3 linked regions of the Homo sapiens genome follow. The protein of the gene in region 3 interacts with the protein of the main gene of each other region in a pairwise test. Each region holds a gene or a part of one and is shown on either strand. Other genes may lie near its edges.

Evidence for each region. Proteins that work in one complex are often made in the same cells at the same time.
Region 1: the proteins of ADIPOQ (region 3) and CD200R1 interact in binary tests that used the Homo sapiens proteins (3 or more experiments, as listed by UniProt).
Region 2: the proteins of ADIPOQ (region 3) and MFF interact in binary tests that used the Homo sapiens proteins (3 or more experiments, as listed by UniProt).

The regions. Positions count from the first base shown.
Region 1 is NC_000003.12:112,944,083-112,951,114, forward strand, and holds part of CD200R1 (cell surface glycoprotein CD200 receptor 1 isoform a precursor), read right to left. Parts: intron 3,843-7,032; coding exon 3,774-3,842; intron 1-3,773. UniProt on the Homo sapiens protein: Inhibitory receptor for the CD200/OX2 cell surface glycoprotein. Limits inflammation by inhibiting the expression of pro-inflammatory molecules including TNF-alpha, interferons, and inducible nitric oxide synthase (iNOS) in response to selected stimuli.
Region 2 is NC_000002.12:227,349,240-227,356,271, reverse strand, and holds part of MFF (mitochondrial fission factor), read right to left. Parts: intron 3,759-7,032; coding exon 3,699-3,758; intron 596-3,698; coding exon 511-595; intron 1-510. UniProt on the Homo sapiens protein: Plays a role in mitochondrial and peroxisomal fission. Promotes the recruitment and association of the fission mediator dynamin-related protein 1 (DNM1L) to the mitochondrial surface.
Region 3 is NC_000003.12:186,852,700-186,858,985, reverse strand, and holds the end of ADIPOQ (adiponectin precursor), read right to left. Parts: exon of another isoform or gene 5,936-6,286; 5' UTR 5,928-5,935; coding exon 5,714-5,927; intron 5,209-5,713; exon of another isoform or gene 5,114-5,208; intron 4,854-5,113; exon of another isoform or gene 4,803-4,853; coding exon 4,282-4,802; 3' UTR 523-4,281; downstream 1-522. UniProt on the Homo sapiens protein: Important adipokine involved in the control of fat metabolism and insulin sensitivity, with direct anti-diabetic, anti-atherogenic and anti-inflammatory activities.

The sequences.
Region 1 (7,032 bases), about 74 Mb from region 3:
AGCTCTCCTTAATCTCTTTCAGAAACAGAAGCAGAGGGAATGCTTCCTAACTCATTCTATCAGGTTAGCATTATCCTAATAACCAAACCAGACAAAAACATTACAAAAAAGAAAACCACAGACCAATATCTCTCATAAACATACATTTTTAAATCCTCAGTAAAATATTAGTAAATCAAATTCAAGAATGTAGTAAAAGAATTATATTCCATGAACAACTGGGGTTTATTCCAGATATGCAAGCCTGGCTCAAAATTCAAAAATGAATTAATATCTTCCATCACATCAATAAGCTAAATAATATGATCATTTCCATAGATACATAAAAAGCATTTGACAAAATTTAACATTCATTTATGATTTTTTAAAAACTCTCAGTAAACTGGGATAAAGAGAAATTTCTCAACTTAAAAAACATCTACAAAAAACTCTACAGCTAGCATCATAATTAATGGTGAGAAAGCAAAGCATCAGGAGCAAAGCAAGATGACTCTTTTCACCACTGCTTTTCTAACTAATGCTTTTCTAACTAATTCACCACTGGAATTTCTAACTAATGCAATAAGACAAGAAAAAATAAATAAAAGGGATCAAGATCAGTAACGAAGAAATAAAACTGTCTTTGTTCATACATGACATAATTATCTATGTAAAGCATCTGAAAGAATTGACCAAAAAAACTCCTAGAACTAATAAGAAATTGCAGCAAGGTTGCAAAATACAAGGTTAACATACAAAAGTCAATTTTTTGTATTGTATTGACTCATTGATGTGATGGAAGATATTAATTCAAGGTTAACATACAAAAGTCAATGTTTGTATGACAATTTCCAATAAGTCACCAGTGAACAAGTGGAATTTGAAGTTAAAAACACAATACCATTTATATTAGCATCCCCAAAAATGAAATACTTAGGTATAAGTCTAACAAAATATGTGCAACATCTATATGAGGAAAACTATAAAACTCTGATGGAAAAGAATCAAAGAAAATCTAAGTAAATGGAGTGAGACCTCATGTTCACAGATAGGGTGAATGAATATTACCAAAGTCCCAGTTTTTCCCAACTTGATCTATGTATTCAACACAATCCCAACCAAAATCTCAGCAAGTTATTTTATGGACATAAACAAACTGATTTTTAAGTTTATCTAGAGAGGCAAAAGACTCAGAATAGTCAACACATTATTGAAGAAGAACAAAGTTTGAGGCCTGACACTATTCGACTTCAAGATTTACTATAAAGCTACAATAATCAAGTCAGTATTTTATTAGCAAAAGAAGAGCTAAATAAGTAAATGAAACCAAATAGAGAGCCCAGAAATAGGCTCACATAAATATTGTATTTGGAAATTAGCAAAGGCAATACATTGGAGTCTTTTGAACAAATGGTGTTGGAACGACTGGACATCCAGATGCAAAAATAAATTAAATCTAGATACAGACCTCACACCTTTCACAAAAATAAACTCAAAATGGATCAGTGTCCTAAATATAAAAATGCAAAACTAAAAACACTCCTAGAAGGTAACATAAGAGAAAGTCCAAATGATCTTTGGTTTGGCAGTGACATTTTAGCTACCACAGTAAAGGCACAATCCATAAAATAAAGAATCTATAAACTGGACTTCAGTAAAATTAAAAATTTCTACTCTGTGAAAAATTTCTAAGAGCAGTGGCTCACGCCTGTAATCACAGCACTTTGGAAGGCCGAGGCGGGCGGATCACGAGGTCAGGAAATCGAGACCATCTTGGCTAACACGGTGAAACCCCGTCTCTACTAAAAATACAAAAATTAGCAGGGCGTGGTAGCTGGCGCCTGTAGTCCCAGCTACTCTACTCCGGAGGCTGAGGCAGAAGAATGGCGTGAACCCGGGAGGCGGAGCTTGCAGTGAGCCAAGATCGCGCCACTGCACTCCAGCCTGGGCGACAAAGCGAGACTCCGTCTCAAAAAAAAAAAAAAAAAAAAGGAGAACGAAAAGATAAGCCACATACTAAAAAAAAAATACAGTCATCCCTTGTTGCCTCTGAGGGATTCCATCACCCCATGGATACCAAAATCCACAGATGCTCATATCCCTTGTATAAAATGGCTTAGTATTTGCATATAACCACCTGTATTTTTTAAATCGTCTCTAGATTACTTATAATACCTAATACAATGCCTGTATATCACTACATCCTGTGGACTCAATGTAGTAAGGCAAATTCAAGTTTTGCTTTTTGGAACTTTGTGGAATTTTTTCCAAATATTTCCAATCCATGGTTGGTTGGATCCACAGATTTGAAACCCATGGATACAGAGGGCCAACTGTATTTTCAAAAGACATATCCGATAAAAGACTGTTATCCAAAACACACAAAGGAACCTTAAAACTCAGCAATATGCAAGCAAACAACCAGATTAAAAAACAGGTCAAAAATCTTAACAGGCACTTTACCAAAGAAGATATATATGGAAAATGTACATATTTATGGAAAATAAGCATATGAAAAGATGCTCTACATCATATGTCATCAAAGAAAGGCAAATTAAAACAACAATGAGAACCACTACACACCAAAGGCGAGGAGTGGAGCAACAGGAACTTAATTGGTAGCAGGAATGCAAAGTGGTACATCTACTTTGAAAGACAGTTTGGCAGTTTCTTACAAAACTAAGCAATCTCCTACCATGCAATCCAACAATCATGCTTTTTGGTATTTACCCTAAGAGTTGAAAACTTACATCCATACAAAAACCCGTGCATGGGTGTTAATTGCAGCTTTTTTCCTAATTGCCAAAACTTGGAAGCAGCCAAGATGTCTTTTACCAGGCAAATGAATAAACTGTGGTATAGTCAAACAATGGAATATTATTCAGTACTAAAAAAAAAGAGCCATTAAGACATGGAAAGTCATGGGGGAACACTTAAATGCATATTATTAAGTGAAAAAAGCCAGTCTGAAAATGCTGCATACTGTAACGTTCCAATTATATGACACTCTGGAAAAGACAAAACTATGGAGACAGTATACCAGGATTGCCTGGGGTTAGTGGGCAGGGAAGGATGAATAGGTAGAATAGAGACGATTTTTAGGTCAGTGAAATTACTCTATAAAATATTATCATGGTGGAGACATGTCATTATGCATTTGCCTGAAAACATTCATATTCAACCCTAAAAGTGACCTCTAATGCAAACTTTGGACTTTGATAATGTGATAATGATGATGTTTCAATGTAGGTTCATTAATTGAAACAAATGTACCACTCTAGTCAGGTATGTTGATAATGGGGAGGCTTTGCACATGTGGGGGCAGAGGTCATAGGGGAAATTTCTGTACTTTCCACTCAATTGTGCTACGATCCTAAAACTTCTCTAAAAAAATAAAGTCTGTTAACTTTTCTTTTCTGTTTCAATGTTAATTAAAATGGCAAACAAAAATTTTGGAGAAAATAGGGTTGAGAGAGGATATAGAAAATAAATCATTAACACCTATTAAGATCTGCTTATTAAAAAGTGCTCTGGGATAATAATCTAGGTTTCAAAAGTTGAATAACAAATTTTTTGAATAGGCCATTGGTTTTGTTTAGTGATCCCATTCTTAAAATAGGTACTAAATAAGCATAGAAATAATTTCAGAATGAAAAATTTATTAACACTCTTAAATATAATATCATTTAGATAATACAGATAATGCATGAGACAATTCAAGATCCAAAAATGTAAAACCTATATGGACATCAAGCACTCCCCTACTAGAATTATTGTTAAAAGATGCACATTACCTAAAGCATGATTCTCCTTGCTAGTTTGCAGCATTAATGAGTTGTTTGGTTGAGCAGCACCCTCCGCTTCTGAATTTTGAAAAAGACATAGGGGGTAGAGAGAGAAATATGCATTAATAGATCTGACTCCTAGTTAAAATCATATTTTTTCACATTCTTCAGACTATTTTTGTATTGCAGTTGCCAATGAATATCTAAATTATGACAGCCAAGCAAAAGTCTTGGCAAAATTTGTCCCAGTATAAACTTTTGACTTTCTCTTCCTGACTCTGGCATAGTCCTGCTTTAAGCCCAGAGTGCCCATCACCCCCCTCTTGCTTTATATTCAAGTCTTCTTCCAGGCTTTTAGTCTATCTCTGAGTGTGGAAGAAATTATTTTACTAGGCTTTTCAAGCACCAATGAGGAGGTAAAAAAAGTTTAGTGGGGACTATTGATTGGCTGCTGGTATGGAATAAAAGGATTTTCCTAAGCATTGTTGAAGTCACATCATAGAATCTATGATGGGAAAACGGTCCCCAACCTTTTTGGCACCAGGGACCCATTTCGAGGAAGATAATTTTTCCACCACGGACAAGGAGGAAGGGAGCACGATAGTTCTCGGATGAAACTGTTACACCTCAGATCATCAGGCATTAGTTCAATTCTCATAAGGAATGCACAGCCTAGATTCCTGGCATGCACAGTTCACAATAGGGTTCATGCTCCTGTGAGCATCTAATGCCTCCAACTGATCTGACAAGAGGTGGAGCTCAGGCCGCAATTCTCACTCACCTGCCGCTCACCCCCTGCTGTGCGGCCCAATCCCTAATAGGCCAAGGACTGGTACCAGTCTGCAGCCCCAGGGTTGGGGACCCGTGATATAGACAATGGCCTATTAAGTTCACATTTCTGCAAGGCAAGCTCTTAGTGAGAATTGGTAGTACACATCTTTTAAGCAGCAATTATTGGCAAAGTACTCTGCTAGGCACAGAGATATCATAATAAACAATATCCCCTTTTTTCCAAGAGCTTAAGATCCAGGAGAGGCAGTAGCTAGGGAAACAATTATAATGCAAAGTTTTCAGTGCAATGATCGAAGTTGCCTGTGATGTATAGAAGTTTAAAAGAAGAGATGTTTAAATTCCAGGAAAACAGGAGTAAGAGATTAGGCATGCTTTCCTATAATAAGTAATTTTTTAGCTGGATCTAAGTACATGAGGAGTTTTCCAGGAAGACAGAAGGGAAAATGCAAACAAAAATAATGGCATTTAAAGGAGGTACAAAGCCAAATAAAAATTTACAAGAGTTATAAATAGTTTAGTATTGCCATGAAGTGAGAAAACCTGGATGTGTAATTGGAGTTGAGGCTGGATATCGGCAGGCTCTAACTGTGCAAGGCACAAAGCTCCTGGAATGTGTTCACAAGGAAAAGATACACTCGTAGCTTATCTATAGTGAGTGTATCTGACTGGCAAAGAGACACCTTTTAGAGTAAAATTTAATGCTCAGTGTTTTTCTGGAAAAAGTTTTAATCTACTGCCCCTTTCAGCTGCCATTTTCTTTAGCAAACTGTTCTTTTAAGATAATTTATGGAATGAGTATAACAGGAATAGATTTTGGGTAATTTGCCTATGTTCTTTATTTCCATCTCTCTATAACTAGCAGATATGATTATTTTCATTTTACAGATAAAGAAATGTAGATTAAGTGATTAAGCAATTTGACCAAGACTACCTGGCTAGTAAGCTGCTTCAGTTACCCAATTATGAATCTTAGTGCAAGTAAGTCTTACTGCTATGAGTAGAAATCAATGGTTAGAGCCTAAGAAATATGCTAGGATAGATACACAACCCAAATTAACCCAAACTGAAGTGAGTTTAAGCCATGTTATTGCAAGAGCACTGAGAGACAAACTTTTAAAAAAGCAGATCGCATGGCAAGTCCATAAAATCAGGATTACAAAGGCATCTGGACACAGACACTATGAATTCTAGATCTGAACGGGAATAGTTAAGTTCGGGAAGAGACAATTGTCAGAATTCATGGGCTTAGAACAGTGGCCTGCACAGCTCCCTGGCACGTGGCTAGATGAAGCTGGATTAAAAATAAAGATCAACCCAAACCTATAGCAAACCAGACTAAACATATGGACAGAAATTTTATGGAAAAAGAAGTAAAAATATCTCTTAGTCATATGAAAATATATTTCACATCAGTCATGGTAAGAGGAATCCAAATTAAAAGTATTTGGAAATACCATTTCTCATCTATAACTGGCAAAATCCAAAAGTTTGACAACATACACTGTTGGGTGAGGTTGTGGAGAGATAGGTATGTCTGTATGTTGGTATTGTTCAATTTTATAGTGAGGAAGAAAGAAGATAATAGATGTAAAATAAGTAAGTTTAATACAAAAATTAGCCGGATGTGGTGGCAGATGCCTGTAATCCCAGCTACTTGGGAGGCTGATGCAGAGAATTGCTTGAACCCGGGAGGCAGAGGTTGCAGTGAGCTGAGATCACACCACTGCACTCCAGCCTGGGTGACAGAGTGACACTCCGTCAAAGAAAAAAAAAAAAAGGAAAAAAAAATCCTCAGTCCTAAATTTTAATGAAAAGTATCAATATCAACTTAAGATGTATTTTTATCTTTCAAAATACATATTTCTTATCTGCTGCTAAGTTGTGGGGTAATTCATTACATAGTTATAAACAACTAATATAGTTATCAACCACACTGACCTAATTCATATTTTTAGTACCCTAACCCAGCATCTGCAGAATACATTCTTTGCAAGTGCACATCGTATATTCGCTGAGTTTGGCCACATTCTGTGCCACAAGTCTCAAAAACATTAAAAAAAACTGAAGTCATATAAAAGATGTCCTCCAACCAAAACAGAATTGAATTAGAAATCAATTACAATGAGATTTTTAAGAAAATACCAAATATTTAGAAATCAAACACACGTCTAAGCAACCCTTTGCTCAAAGAAGAAATTCATGAAGAAATTAAAGTTTTCACTGGATGATAATGAAAATACAACATGCCAAAATTTGAAATAAGCAGCTAACACAGTGGTTTTAGGAAAAGTAATACCTTTAAGTGCTAATTTTAAAGGAAGAAATGTGTAAAATTCACCCATAGAAGCAAGAAACAAAAGAGAGAAAACACAATAATAAATATAAGAGCAGAAATCAATAAAAGAGGAAACAAGCAATGCAAAAAATTAAGGAAATCAAAAGCTAGTTCTTTAAAAAGATAATCAACATTTATAAA
Region 2 (7,032 bases), on a different chromosome or scaffold from region 3:
CAATGAGAAAACCAACTATGCCTTCTTCACATGTGTGTATGTCTGTGTGATACTCGAGGCTGTGGGAGTACATATTAAAAAATATGCATGTGCAACTGCAGTTCTAAGAAAGGATTTATTACAGAATACAGGAAATACGTATGCAGGGATGCTGTGCAAGCTGCAAGGAGCGGTTTCCAAAATGGAGTTATTAAACACAGTAACAAAGGTTCCAAAGTAATTGTTCCACATTTCAAAAGCCAAACAAGCAACTGATGGCTGTACTGGTTTGCTAAAGATTCTTTGTTACTGGCCAGAATTACATTAATCTATCTTGGTAATACTGTTTTACGGTGATCAAAACATGTAAATGGTAGTTTAATATATCTTTAATCAAAATGAGAAAATCAATGATGGCTTACTAGTTTGATAGTCCCACAGGAGAGAAAATAATAAAATGTTGAGAACTATCACTTTAAAATATTGTATGAATATAACTGAGAAATATATCTTATTTGGTACACTAAATACCTGTCGTCTTAGTGAAGCTGCATCTACAACAGTCAGGTCATCTGACGTTCCTTCAATGGTTGTATCTATATTTGAAATGCCATACCTGCAGATAAGAGATAGAAATACAAATGAATAGTAAAGTAGAACTCAGAGTAAATGGCACGCCACATCATGCTTTGTGTAATGCTCAAAGTAGTATTCAGAAAATTGGTACTTAATAATATGAATTACTAAAATATTTTACTACCTGAATTTGTACTAATAAAGGAAAGAAAAAAGCTTAAAATGACAACTGTCTACAATATTGAAAAAGGGCACTAAAAACTGGAGAATGGGAAAAAAATCCTGACTAAAGAAACACATAGAAAATTCTCAAGCCAGAAGGATTGGCGATGCTAAAAAGGGTCCCTGGCTGAAAAGGTTTGAGAGCTGCCACTTAGGATAGAACAAAATATAATTCTTACACAAACTTATGTCCATATGTAAGCCCATAGGCACAGACTCACTAGCAGGGAACACAAAGTAGACTAACTCTAAAAAAAGAAAGACTCATCACCTCTTCTCACTGCCTCTTGTCTTGCCATTTTTATTCTTTACTTCTTGTCTTTTTATTTTTTTGAGACAGAGTTTCACTTTTGTTGCCCAGGCTGGAGTGCAATGGCACAATCTCGGCTCATTGCAACCTCCACCTCTGGGGTTCAAGTGATTCTCCTACCTCAGCCTCCCAAGTAGCTGGAATTACAGGCACCTGCCACCATGCCCGGCTAATTTTTGTACTTTTAGTAGAGATGGGGTTTCACCATTTTGGCCAGGCTGGTCTCAAAGTCCTGACCTCAGGTGATCCACCCACCTCAGCCTCCTAAATTGCTGGGATTACAGGCCTGAGCAACCACGCCTGGCCTATTCTTTACTTATTTCCAATTACTTATGCTCTACTGTGTTCTCCCGCAGAAACAATTATAAAATCTCCTGAATACATCTTACCACTACATTTAGCTCCAGAATTGGCCCAATAATGAATAAAATGCTGTGTATAAAATAATACTGAAAAACCATTAAGACAAAATCCAGAGAAAGCATATTAAAAAAGTACTTTTTGTTCCAATGTAGTTACTTCTAAAGCGGCACTAATTTCTAGGTGAATGACACTAAACCTCTGAAAAACAAAGACAAACGCCATTCCTCTTCTTTGCCTGGATTTCCACATTTTAAAATTTAGTTTAATTAATAGCTTCATTGAGATACAACTTATATAACCACATAATTCACCTCACATGTATTTTATACCCTAAATGGTTATTTTAGTAAAATGGCATAGTAAATTTTCTAAATGAGCAGAATATAAATAAACTAAATTAAAAGTTATTCCTGTGTAGTCCAGAGAATTGGCAAATGGATCATCTATTCTAATACCTATCCCAGCAAGTCCCCACTACAAAAAGTACATACCCACAAAAAGGGATATGAAGCAGAATTATACTTTTCATCCAGACATGTTAAAGACAAGTCTACTCAGAAAATCCTTTTGTTTTAAATATTGTTAAAAGTAATAAAAATACTTTAATAAAGTATGCAAAAAACCTTAAACAATAGATGGTGTGTACTGACTCTAGATAATCTACAACCATCTCCAAATATTCCTTCTATGGCTAAATTATCCTGCTTTCTCATTAACTGTCTCCTTATTTCATGAGAACACAGTAAACAACCTGGAGCAGTTAGGGTAATTATACCAGTTAGAGAAGTAAACTTCTAAGTTAGTAGATGCTGGAACTATGGGTTTACAAATGATTAGTGGAAAAAATAAAGGTAGAAGATTCCCTTTTCCTTCACTTCATCCTCAAAATAAAACTCTTCTCTTTCTCTGAGGCCACATAACAGAGGAATAATTAGGAAAAAAATCAAACAGAAGCAATTGTTAAAGGGATCTGAACTGAACATACAGAATGAAGTACAAATGAAAGCGATTACTCACAATTTATATCCTGAATTAACTAAGGTTTAGATATCTGAAATCTCGATTTGCAAAGAAATATAAGGATATGACAAAAGATTTTACCTATATACTTCAATTTAAAACAAAAATATGTTACTTTACATTGTGTTTTAAACAAAAACCGTATTTATTAGAACTAAAAAACTCTAATGCTAAGTTAGACCACTGGCTGAAAATACTCTGACAGAAAGATAAAAGATCACAAACTTAGAGAAAAATATAAGGGAAAACGACAATGAACTGAACTAAGATTGTAAAAAGAAACAAGTCAGCAGAGTGGTAAGGGATTACCACAGGCACGCTTTTCAATTCCTCCACCATGAATTCAATTTTAATGAGCAGCTAATGCTTCCCTTTTCTCTTGCTTCAATGAATGCACCAACTTCTAAGCACAGAAACGATGCTGCCAGTTTTAAATCTACTGCTACCGACAATATATTTCTGCTTAAATAAAACTGACTGAAAAAATTATACAGTAATAGCATCTGTGAATACCAACAAGTTTTTGATTTTTTCCAGACTATAGGAAAACTAAATGGGGATTTTGGCACTTAAGAACTGCATGTATTTGTATGTGCCATTCTGCCAGCCTCTGTGCGTGTCAGGAAGAAAGGAACGCTCAACCTACGCGTGTCTGAAAGTGTAAAAAGGGCAAAAATAAGAGAGAAGGCCTTAAATCAACAGATGATAAAAATGCTTAAAACTAAATTTCCTTTCTAAATATGTACCTTCCCAAACTGTGGAGTTGTTAATGCTGATTTCTCCCAATTTAAGATGAAGCCTTACAAACAAAGACAGGTTTGTTCACACACTAAAAGTAACATTCCAGATAATTAACAACTTAAAAGGAAATGCTGGGCACAATTCAGGCAACCATTAAAATGATGTACATAAAATAAGATTTAAGACTTTTTTCTGTTTTAGCATGTAAATTATTATAAACCACCTATAAACTATTAACACTACACTTAAATAAAATAGCTGTTCACATCATACCATAATTATTAAACATTTTCCCTCATACTAATTGGCCAAATGTCATGACTGATTATTCACTGTTCTTAGAGAGAAGCAAGATGTACTCATCGAGGAAAGCTGTAGAAACAAGTTCAGCTACAAACACAGGCATGGCTACGACATGCAACATGCCCTGCAACACACAAATTCCGCCAAGCATTTACCCTGGTAATTACGAAGTCTCAAAATTTACCTGACGTTGTCATGATGAGGATTAGAAGTGGCGGCAGCAGACCCACCACGCAACACAGGTCTAAGGCAGGTTTTTGCGGGAGAAGGCACAAGACAGAATCAGGAAACAGAGAAGTAATAAAATAAAAGCAAAAACAAGACAAATAAATGTCAAATAGGATTATATTGTATATTTCAATACAATATAATATCTCTCAACTACTTTAAAAAATCCTTGTCTCATGTGTCCTCCATTTTATCATTTTCATAAACTCAACATTACTATTGATCAAAGAAACAAAGGGAATCTATATTTACACGACAAAACAGCACCAACATATAAAATAATTTTCTTGGTGCTTTACTTTATGAAATTTAAGACAGAGGACAACTCTGCTTAAAAAGTGTAATTCCTTTCTTCCAGTTGGAAAAAAAAAATCACTAGCACCTTTAAAAGCATATCAGGACCTGGTTAGCTGCACCGGTATGACCACAGTTGCTCATCTGATATCAACAGCTCTATCTCAAAAACCGTATTCATAAATTTCAAGAAACTCCATTTCCCACACTTCCTTCCCTCCCACCTCATTAATTTTGAGTAGTGCCTGATGTCTCGTTGCAGCTGTGTCTCATTCAAACTCTCAGCTCTCCAGAGTGAAAATGCAAGCCTCCACTCTGAAGCTGAGATCAGGAGACGTGCTAGAGCACATTACAGGAAGGGCAATCCACAATTTGAGTCTGATCTTGAGACAGCCAGGAGTGACATACAGGGCTGCTGGAAATGAAGACTAAGGTGCAATGGGAAACTTGGTGGGGATTTCCACTCATTCTCAGTATATACTTTGGCGCTAGAGGACAGTTAGCTTTCTACTTTGATAAGCAGTAACCTTTCCAATACGTTTTATCTTTTAAAATCAGAAAACAAAAGCTTCTAAGTGTTCACTGGTCAATTCCCCCTAAAACAATCAGCAATATTTACTAAGCAGAGAAAGGAGACTGGAGTGTTGGATCCATATAAAGATTTGAAGAATTATTAAATCCTATTTTGGATATCTCATTCTCTAAGTAACTGATCTGGTTTTGCCTGAATTTAAGTATCAAGACAATAATTATATAATGGTAAATGTTTAATACCAAATGCACTAATTTTTTCTGTAAGTTGGCACAGCTGTGGAATTTTGACTACAATACAAATTATTTTCTGATAATTCAATTCATGTAAGAAAATTCTAATGTTTAACTTCTACATGTCTTAAAGGTACTACCAGTGCTTAAAGAAATTTCTGGAGCCTAGATGATAAGGGATTCAGAGACTTTTTGGGGGAACATGTTTGACTTTTATTTTACTGGCTAAAAAACATGGAGAAATCACATATGCTTAAGACAGGTCTTTAACTCATCTCATCCTACTAACATATTTACTCTGTGGCATTAGGAAACCTGTTATTTAACTACAATCTTAAATTGCACTAACATGAAAATGGTTAACTAGATGAAGCCATCACTGTGTGCTTCCTAAAGCTTTTTAAAATGCACACAGTATGTTCAAATGGGTCTGTCATATTCAACCTATTCCACCACAGAGATTTCCCTTTTATAACGCAGAGCCAGAAAATAATACAGTTACCTTTCACAACGTATTTCATTTTGTCTTCTCACACTGGCAATTGACACATATATTGTAAAAGTAAATTAGACAGGTATGTGGCAAAGTTAGAAACTTCATTCAAGTACCATTTTCTACGATAAGTATGATTTAATACATAAAATCTTCTCAACAGTATGTTTTGTAGAGTGGCAAAAGGGAAAGAAATCCAAGGCTACCACCAAGCTCCGCCATTAACTTGCGTACTGACATTTTTTGAGTAAATACACTCTGACGTAACAGAATATGTGTTTCTTTGCTATAAAAATGTAATCTGCTACAGAAAATAAAGTTTAATTGGGGATCAGGAATTATACACTTTTTTAAAGAGAAAAATTATAAATAACAAACGCTGTATCCACTGCAACTCTGGATTTCTAGGTCTTCCAAGCTGTATATTTATAGGGATACTTGCCAAAAATATAAATTATTCATACATTGGTTTCTTATTCTATGCACTCAAAGCTGGTACAATCTGTTAAGGAAAAACTGCATAAAAATAATCAAGCCCCTCGTAAAAATGAGAGCTAAGCATGACTCATCTATCAATATTTAAATAAGGTTCTTACACAGGAACTAAGTTTCTTTTTGAAGATGCGAATATTTTACATTGTAAAATGAGATACATAGCTCTAACAGATACAGGGAGAGACCGGCATTTTCTAACCAGTTAAGGACCAAATCATAATAGTATTTTAATTTCTGCTGCACCTGAGCAAATGACACACCTGGTGCTTTGGTAAATTTTCAGTGTATCAGTTCTCCAAATGCGTAACACTCACCTGTGTAAATAAACTTTTCTAACATGTACCTAGGATTTAACTTGGTTTTCACGTTGAGTTTGGTTTAGATCATCTACATTCTTGTAAGAAAAAAATATATGGTACACAAACCTTTTGACAGCGTCCTTTAAAATGTAAACTGAACACAGTTCTTATGTCAAGGAATTGTGAATCTGCATTACTTCATAGTGATAAAGCAAGCAGAAAGCTTTTTTCTTTTTCTGCCAAATAGTTCTAGTTTAAATTAACTACACCTAATGTGATGGCATATGACCAAAGATAAGGTATTGCATTAGCATAATAGCCAAGAGTAATAAAATAGAAAAGAAAAAATGATCTACAGAGCAAGGAACATAGAAGCACTTAAAATTTTATAAGCAGTATTATTTTATAATCATGCAAGTAGAACATTATCCAAATTTCACATTCCTATTTCTTATATCTGAAAAGTCATGCCAGATACTTCTCACAAAGGAAATAAAAACTGATTTGGCACTTAAAATTCTGATAAAATCTTGCTCAACACTGAGATCCTAAGTGAATACAACTTTAAAAAATCCTTTCAATACTGAAAGCGTCAATAAGACTGATGAGAATCTAACCCTCCAAGCTCCAAGGTAACAACTAATGCTACAGATCTAGGAGAAAAGCATTATTAATATAACTCCTTCATGAACTTTTAAAAACTTACTGAAATGAATGAGAAAAGAGAATTCCTTCCCAGAAAAGGGATTTTAGAGTTATCAATTCATCACAATGTAAAAAAGTGAAATAAAATTTCACTGAAAGTCCAAAAATATTTTTCATTATTAAAAAAATACAAAGTTTATACTAATACGATTTTTGATTTTATACATTTGACTCTGAGGCACAATTTTTTTTCCATTATGGAGGAAAAAATCCATATTTTTATAAGTTCCACATTATTG
Region 3 (6,286 bases):
TTCATCATCAACAGACTTGCTTTAAAATAAATGCTCAATAAAGTTTTTCAGGTTGAGGAGAAATTACACCAGAGAGAAACACAGAACATTAGAAATTAATAAAGAACAAAGGAAATGATGAATATCTGAATATGTATTTTTCTCCTCTTAAATTCTTTAAAATATATATATGACTGACGAATGCAAAAATCATAACATTGCCTATAATGTTTCAGTGTATATAGATGTAATATATATGACAACTACAACATAAAAGAAAGTGGATAGAGGTACTAATATGATTATAAGCCTTCTACGGTTTACTGCAAGTGGCAAAATATTAACTTTATGCACACTGTGAAAAGTTAAGTACATTGTAATCCCTCAAGCAACCACTAAAAAATACCACAAAGAGATATAGGCAAATACCCAATAAATAAATTAAGATAAAATATTATGAAATATTTAAACAATCCAAAAGAATTCTGGAAAGAGAATAAAACAGAAGTGGTGAACAGCAAACAAATAAAACAGTCATCCATCTTAAATTCAACAATTTTATTAAATATAAATTGTCTAAACACCAATTAAAAGACAGATATTTTTAGACTGGATAAAAATTATACCCAACTACATGCAGTCTGTAAGAAACACATTTTAAATACAATAATATAGATATATTTAAAGTAACATGATGGAAAAAGATATACCACAAAAACACTAATCAAAAGAAAGTTGACCAGGTGTGATGGCTCATGCCTGTAATCCCAGCACTTTGGGAGGCCGAGGCGGGTGGATCACAAAGTCAGGAGTTTGAAACCAACCTGACGAATGTGGTGAAACCCCGTCTCTACGAAAAATACAAAAATTAGCTGGGCGCAGTGGCATGAGCCTGTAGTTCCAGCTACTTGGGAGGCTGAGGCAGGAGAATTGCTCATGGTAGAGGTAGCAGTGAGCCAAGATCACACCACTGAACTCCAGCCAGGGCCACAGAACGAGAGTCTGTCAAAAAAAGAGAGAGAGAGAGAGAGAGAAAGAAAAGGAGGAAGGAAGGAAGGAAAGAGAGAGAGAGAGAAAGAAAGGAAGGAAGAAAGAAAGGAAGGAAGAAAGAAAAGGAAGTTGAGTGCGTATGTTATTTTTAGACAAAGTAGACTTCAGAACACAGAAAATTATCACAGATAAAGAAGGACATTACATAATGATAAGAGAGTAAATGCACCAATAAGACATAATACTAAACATGTATATATCTAATAATAGAGCGCTAAAATATATGAAGCAAAAGCTGACAGAACTAAAGAGAATTGGACAAATCCACAATTGTACTTCAAAGCATCACAGGACCATTAATCCTGAAATCTTGACCTCAGTTTCTCTCAGGCCTCTTTTGGCCTCAGTTGACTCTCTCTGTGCCTCTGGTTCCACAAAGGAATAACCCTGCCCCAGAGAGTTTAGGGTAACTGTGAAAGCGTGTTCTGTAAGGAGCCCACCCCAACCAGATGTGAGACTGTGAGCATAGCCAGACTTTAGCTACTTGTTGAAATTTTAGAGAAAATCAATAGGAATTTTCCAGCTATGTCTCTCTGGGAAACTCATGAAAGCTCAAACACAGCATTAAGAGTTTGTTGTGGACAGGTATTATTTTGCATCTATCATCCACTCTCCTATTTCTGATAACAGTGTCCCAATTTTGCTTTAGGGAAAATACCTCTACATACCCCTAACTTAAGCTGCAATTAAGTCAATATGAATATTTCATCCTCCTGACTCAGTGATTGGTCAGAAACAGGCACACAACTCAGCCAGAGCAATGAGATGCAAGGTTACACTTGCTGGGGCATCTGGGAAAGAGAGCTTCCTCTCTCCTCTTTGGGCATCACCAGAAAACATGATGTCCATTTAGCCAGATGGTGTGGCTTGGGGATACGAGAGCTGGGCAGGCCACAGTCTTTTTGATATCGGGAGGGAAACCCTAGAACTATACTGTGTAGCACCTGAGGGTAAAGCCTACACTGCGGAAGGCAGAACAGAAGGACATACAGAAAAGGGTCTTGATTGTTTTGAGCTTTGGTTCAAACCTTATCTAAAGACAGAACAACTCTGGTAATTTCTATTATGCAAAGGAATAAATGTTTCCATTTTTCCTTTATTTTTCTTGCTTACAGTAGTTTGCATAATATTTTGGGTTTTCTGTTGTGAATGACATTCACAACACAGAGTTCTGACTAACACAAGGCTTACTCTCACCTCTTCATCCCTCTCTAAACCTCATATCTATCTTTCTCAAAAAATAACAACAAAAATGGAGGCGGGCAGATCACAAGGTCAGGAGTTCGAGACCAGCCTGGCCAATATGGTGAAACCCTGTCTTTACTAAAAATACAAAAATTAGCCTGGCATGGTGGTAGGCACCTGTGGTCCCAGCTACTCGGGAGGCTGAGGCAGAAGAATCGCTTGAACCTGGGAGGCAAAGGTTGCAGTAAGCCGAGATCATGCCACTGCACTCTAGCCTGGCAACAGAGGGAAACTCCATCTTAAAAACAACAACAACAACAAAAAGACAAAGCTTTATATGTGGAAAAAATAATACCTTAATGATTAGCAATACACATATAAGAGAGAATTGTTCAGAATTTAAAACTGTAAGCAAAAAGATAGTTTTTTAAATTTATATATTGATAGAGAATGCTATTTACTCTGTTTTTGCTAAAATCTTTGAAGAACATCACTGGAGTTATTGTCTCCTGAGAGAATGTTTACCACCATCAACTACCTCAACCTGTAATTCTTAAAGAACAATAATAAATTCAGGAGGCCCAGTCTTCCCTGACCCTGTTGGTACTCAAGGAGACAATGGCTTCAGAATTCCTCCATGGGTTTTGCATTTCAGGCTCAAGCTACCTTCTTGATGAAAAATTCTGGACGTGTTCTGAAAATCACAGTCATCCCTAACTTCAGTGGAAAAGATTCATATTGTCCAGCTGAACAAGGATTGATACTTAAAACCAGGGATTTCCTAAAATGAAAATGTTTCTGTGGATAAAACTGATTACATGCAGAGACTGGAATGGAGTTAATTCTGGGTAGATATGGGATTCAAGAGATTGGTCTTCATGAGGCATTTATCAAGGATCTGCAAGGGATTTAGAGGTGACGGAAGCACAGTCCTTCCTGGGCAGTTGCCTCTAGCCTGGTGGGAGGTGTTCCTCACACCCAGGACTCTCATCCATGGCAAAATAAAAAGTGAGATATCGACTGGGCATGGTGGCTCATGCCTGTAATCCCAGCACTTTGGGAGGTCGAGGCGGGTGGATCACCTAGGCCAGGAGTTCGAGACCAGCCTGGCCAACATGACGAAACCCCATTTCTACTAAAAATACAAAAATTAGCCATGTGTGGTGGAATGCACCTGAAGTCTCAGCTACTCGGGAGGCTGAGGCACAATAATTGCTTGGACCCAGGAGAAGGAGGCTGCAGTGAGCCGAGGTCGTGTCACTGTACTCCAGCCTGGGTGACAGAGTGAGACTCCATCTCAAAAAAAAAAAAAGTGGATATCACATCAGAGAAGCTCCTGGCCAGGTGGCCTTGAGGAACAGGGATGAGTTCGGCACTTAGAGATGGAGTTGGCTTTCCCCGTTGGAGGGAAAGGCATGAGAAGGGACATAGGTAAGAGGAAGTAGAGTAGTGCAGGGGCCATTGAGTAGTAGTCCTTCCAAGACAGGACGTCATCATAGAACCACTTTCTCTGAGGAAGCTCTGCTTGGGGGAGGTTTTAATTCATGAGGAAGGCAAATTCAATGGCTCTCAGGTGAGGTGGGAAACAGACACCTACCAACACTCCAAAGAGAACATGTACCTCTATAAAAGGGCACAGTCTAGTGAACAAAGTCCACAGCTCTGGGTTTGATTTCTAGCACTGTCACTTAATACTGTGTGACCTTAGACATTCACTTAACTCTCTCAGCCTCAGGATACAATCTGTAAAAACAGGAGAATGCTTGTTCCCTGTGCCTTATAGGATTGATATGAGCATCAGGAGAGACAGTGGGCACAAAATAGCACTGTCAACTACTTCTTTCTAGTCAGTTATCTGGTCATGTTTGTGAAGCTCCCCAGGACTGGGAACATAGCATATGATTTTTTTAAAGTTACTCGATGAATGAATGAATAAATGAATGAGTAAATGAATGAATAATATCTAAAGGCCTCCAACTAAATAATAATCAACTTCCTAACCGTACTGAAAGCCTTTAATTGACTTTGGGGCTGTTTGGCCTGGAGGAGGCTCTGAGTTAGTGGTGATCAGTTGGTGTCATGGTAGAGAAGAAAGCCTGTGAAGGTGGAGTCATTGTCATTATCAGCATAGAGTCCATTACGCTCTCCTTCCCCATACACCTGGAGCCAGACTTGGTCGCCCACCTCCAGATGCAGGAGCACAGAGCCGGAGGCCTGGTCCACATTATTTTCCTGGTACTGATCATAGGTGAAGAGCATAGCCTTGTCCTTCTTGAAGAGGCTGACCTTCACATCCTTCATATAGACTGTGATGTGGTAGGCAAAGTAGTACAGCCCAGGAATGTTGCAGTGGAATTTACCAGTGGAGCCATCATAGTGGTTTTGCTGATTGTAGAAGATCTTGGTAAAGCGAATGGGCATGTTGGGGATAGTAACGTAAGTCTCCAATCCCACACTGAATGCTGAGCGGTATACATAGGCACCTTCTCCAGGTTCTCCTTTCCTGCCTTGGATTCCCGGAAAGCCTCGGGGACCTTCAGCCCCGGGTACTCCGGTTTCACCGATGTCTCCCTTAGGACCAATAAGACCTAAGGAATGAGAAGACCTCAGTGACTACAAAGAACAGAACTCCTGCCTAGGTTGGTTACAGCCTAAATTACCATCCCTGTGGCTCCCACTCACAACCTTCTTGACTTATAGATCAAGAAACCAATAAGAGCTCCCAAAAGGAGAGAGGTGTTACCTCCTCCTTCTATATCTCCCACAGACATGGAGGCTCCCATAATTTCAACTCTATCTTTATCTCCTATAGGTCTCTATCATAGACCCTCCACCCTGCCAGCCCTTTATGTGCTGGCACCATCAACCCTGGTTTTGCAATTCTACCCCCTCCATCTAGGATGTCTCTCCTCCTCTATTCTGCCTACCCATCATTCAAGGCCTAGCTGAAGCTCTGCCTCCTCCTTGAAGCCTTCATTCTTCATCAGGTCCACGGTGAGTATATTTTCTCTATGCTCCATACTTTGAATACTTGTTCACATTCAGTTTGACATTTTTAGAGTAGACTTTCTTGTAGTAACCACCAACAGAGCCTTGCACATTAGACATCTTACCTAGATCAAGAGTTCCCCAAAGGCAGGACTGAGCCTTTCAGGGGGTGTGCAGTAAATGTGGTTGAATGCCACTGGGTGAAATGGAAGTTAAGCAGACAGAAAGAGGAATCAGAATATGAATGTACTGGGAATAGGGATGAGGGTGAAGATGGGAAAGGGGATGGAAAAGGAGCTGCAGATGCAGCAAAGCCAAAGTCTTGGTTATAGAGGCACCATCTACACTCATCCTTGGAAGACCAACCCCAAATCACTTCAGGTTGCTTATGGTTAACATAAAAAAGCTTTGCTTTCTCCCTGTGTCTAGGCCTTAGTTAATAATGAATGCCTTCATATAGTTTATATCAGTGTAGGAGGTCTGTGATGAAAGAGGCCAGAAACATTCTTACCTGGATCTCCTTTCTCACCCTTCTCACCAGGGGTGCCATCTCTGCCATCACGGCCTGGGGCCCCATTATGGCCCGGATGCCCTGGGATGCCCGCCATCCAACCTGTGCAGGCCCCCTTGGGCAGGGGAAGCAGGACTCCGGGCCCTTGAGTCGTGGTTTCCTGGTCATGACCGGGCAGAGCTAATAGCAGTAGAACAGCTCCCAGCAACAGCATCCTGAGCCCTGGAATCCACATGTGCACTGTCAGCCATGGAGAGACAGACCCCACACACACACCCAGTTGGGACCTACAAAGGACTCCGTCCATCTCAGCAGAGTCTACTTCTAGGAGCTGCTTTCTAAGTATTCAACTTTTCCAGGAAGACTTTTCTGAATATTGCAGCCCACCTTGATCTCTTTCTGCCCTGAAATCTGTAATACTTAGCATTATTCCCTGTGTGTAGTCTCCTTTCCTCACCAAGATTATGAATTCAGTGATTGCACAGATGACACTCCTCTAATTTTCCCATGTCTGAGCACAGGACCAAGCACAGGGAAAGCTCCAAGAGTCGACTTGCCAAGAATCCATCCTTG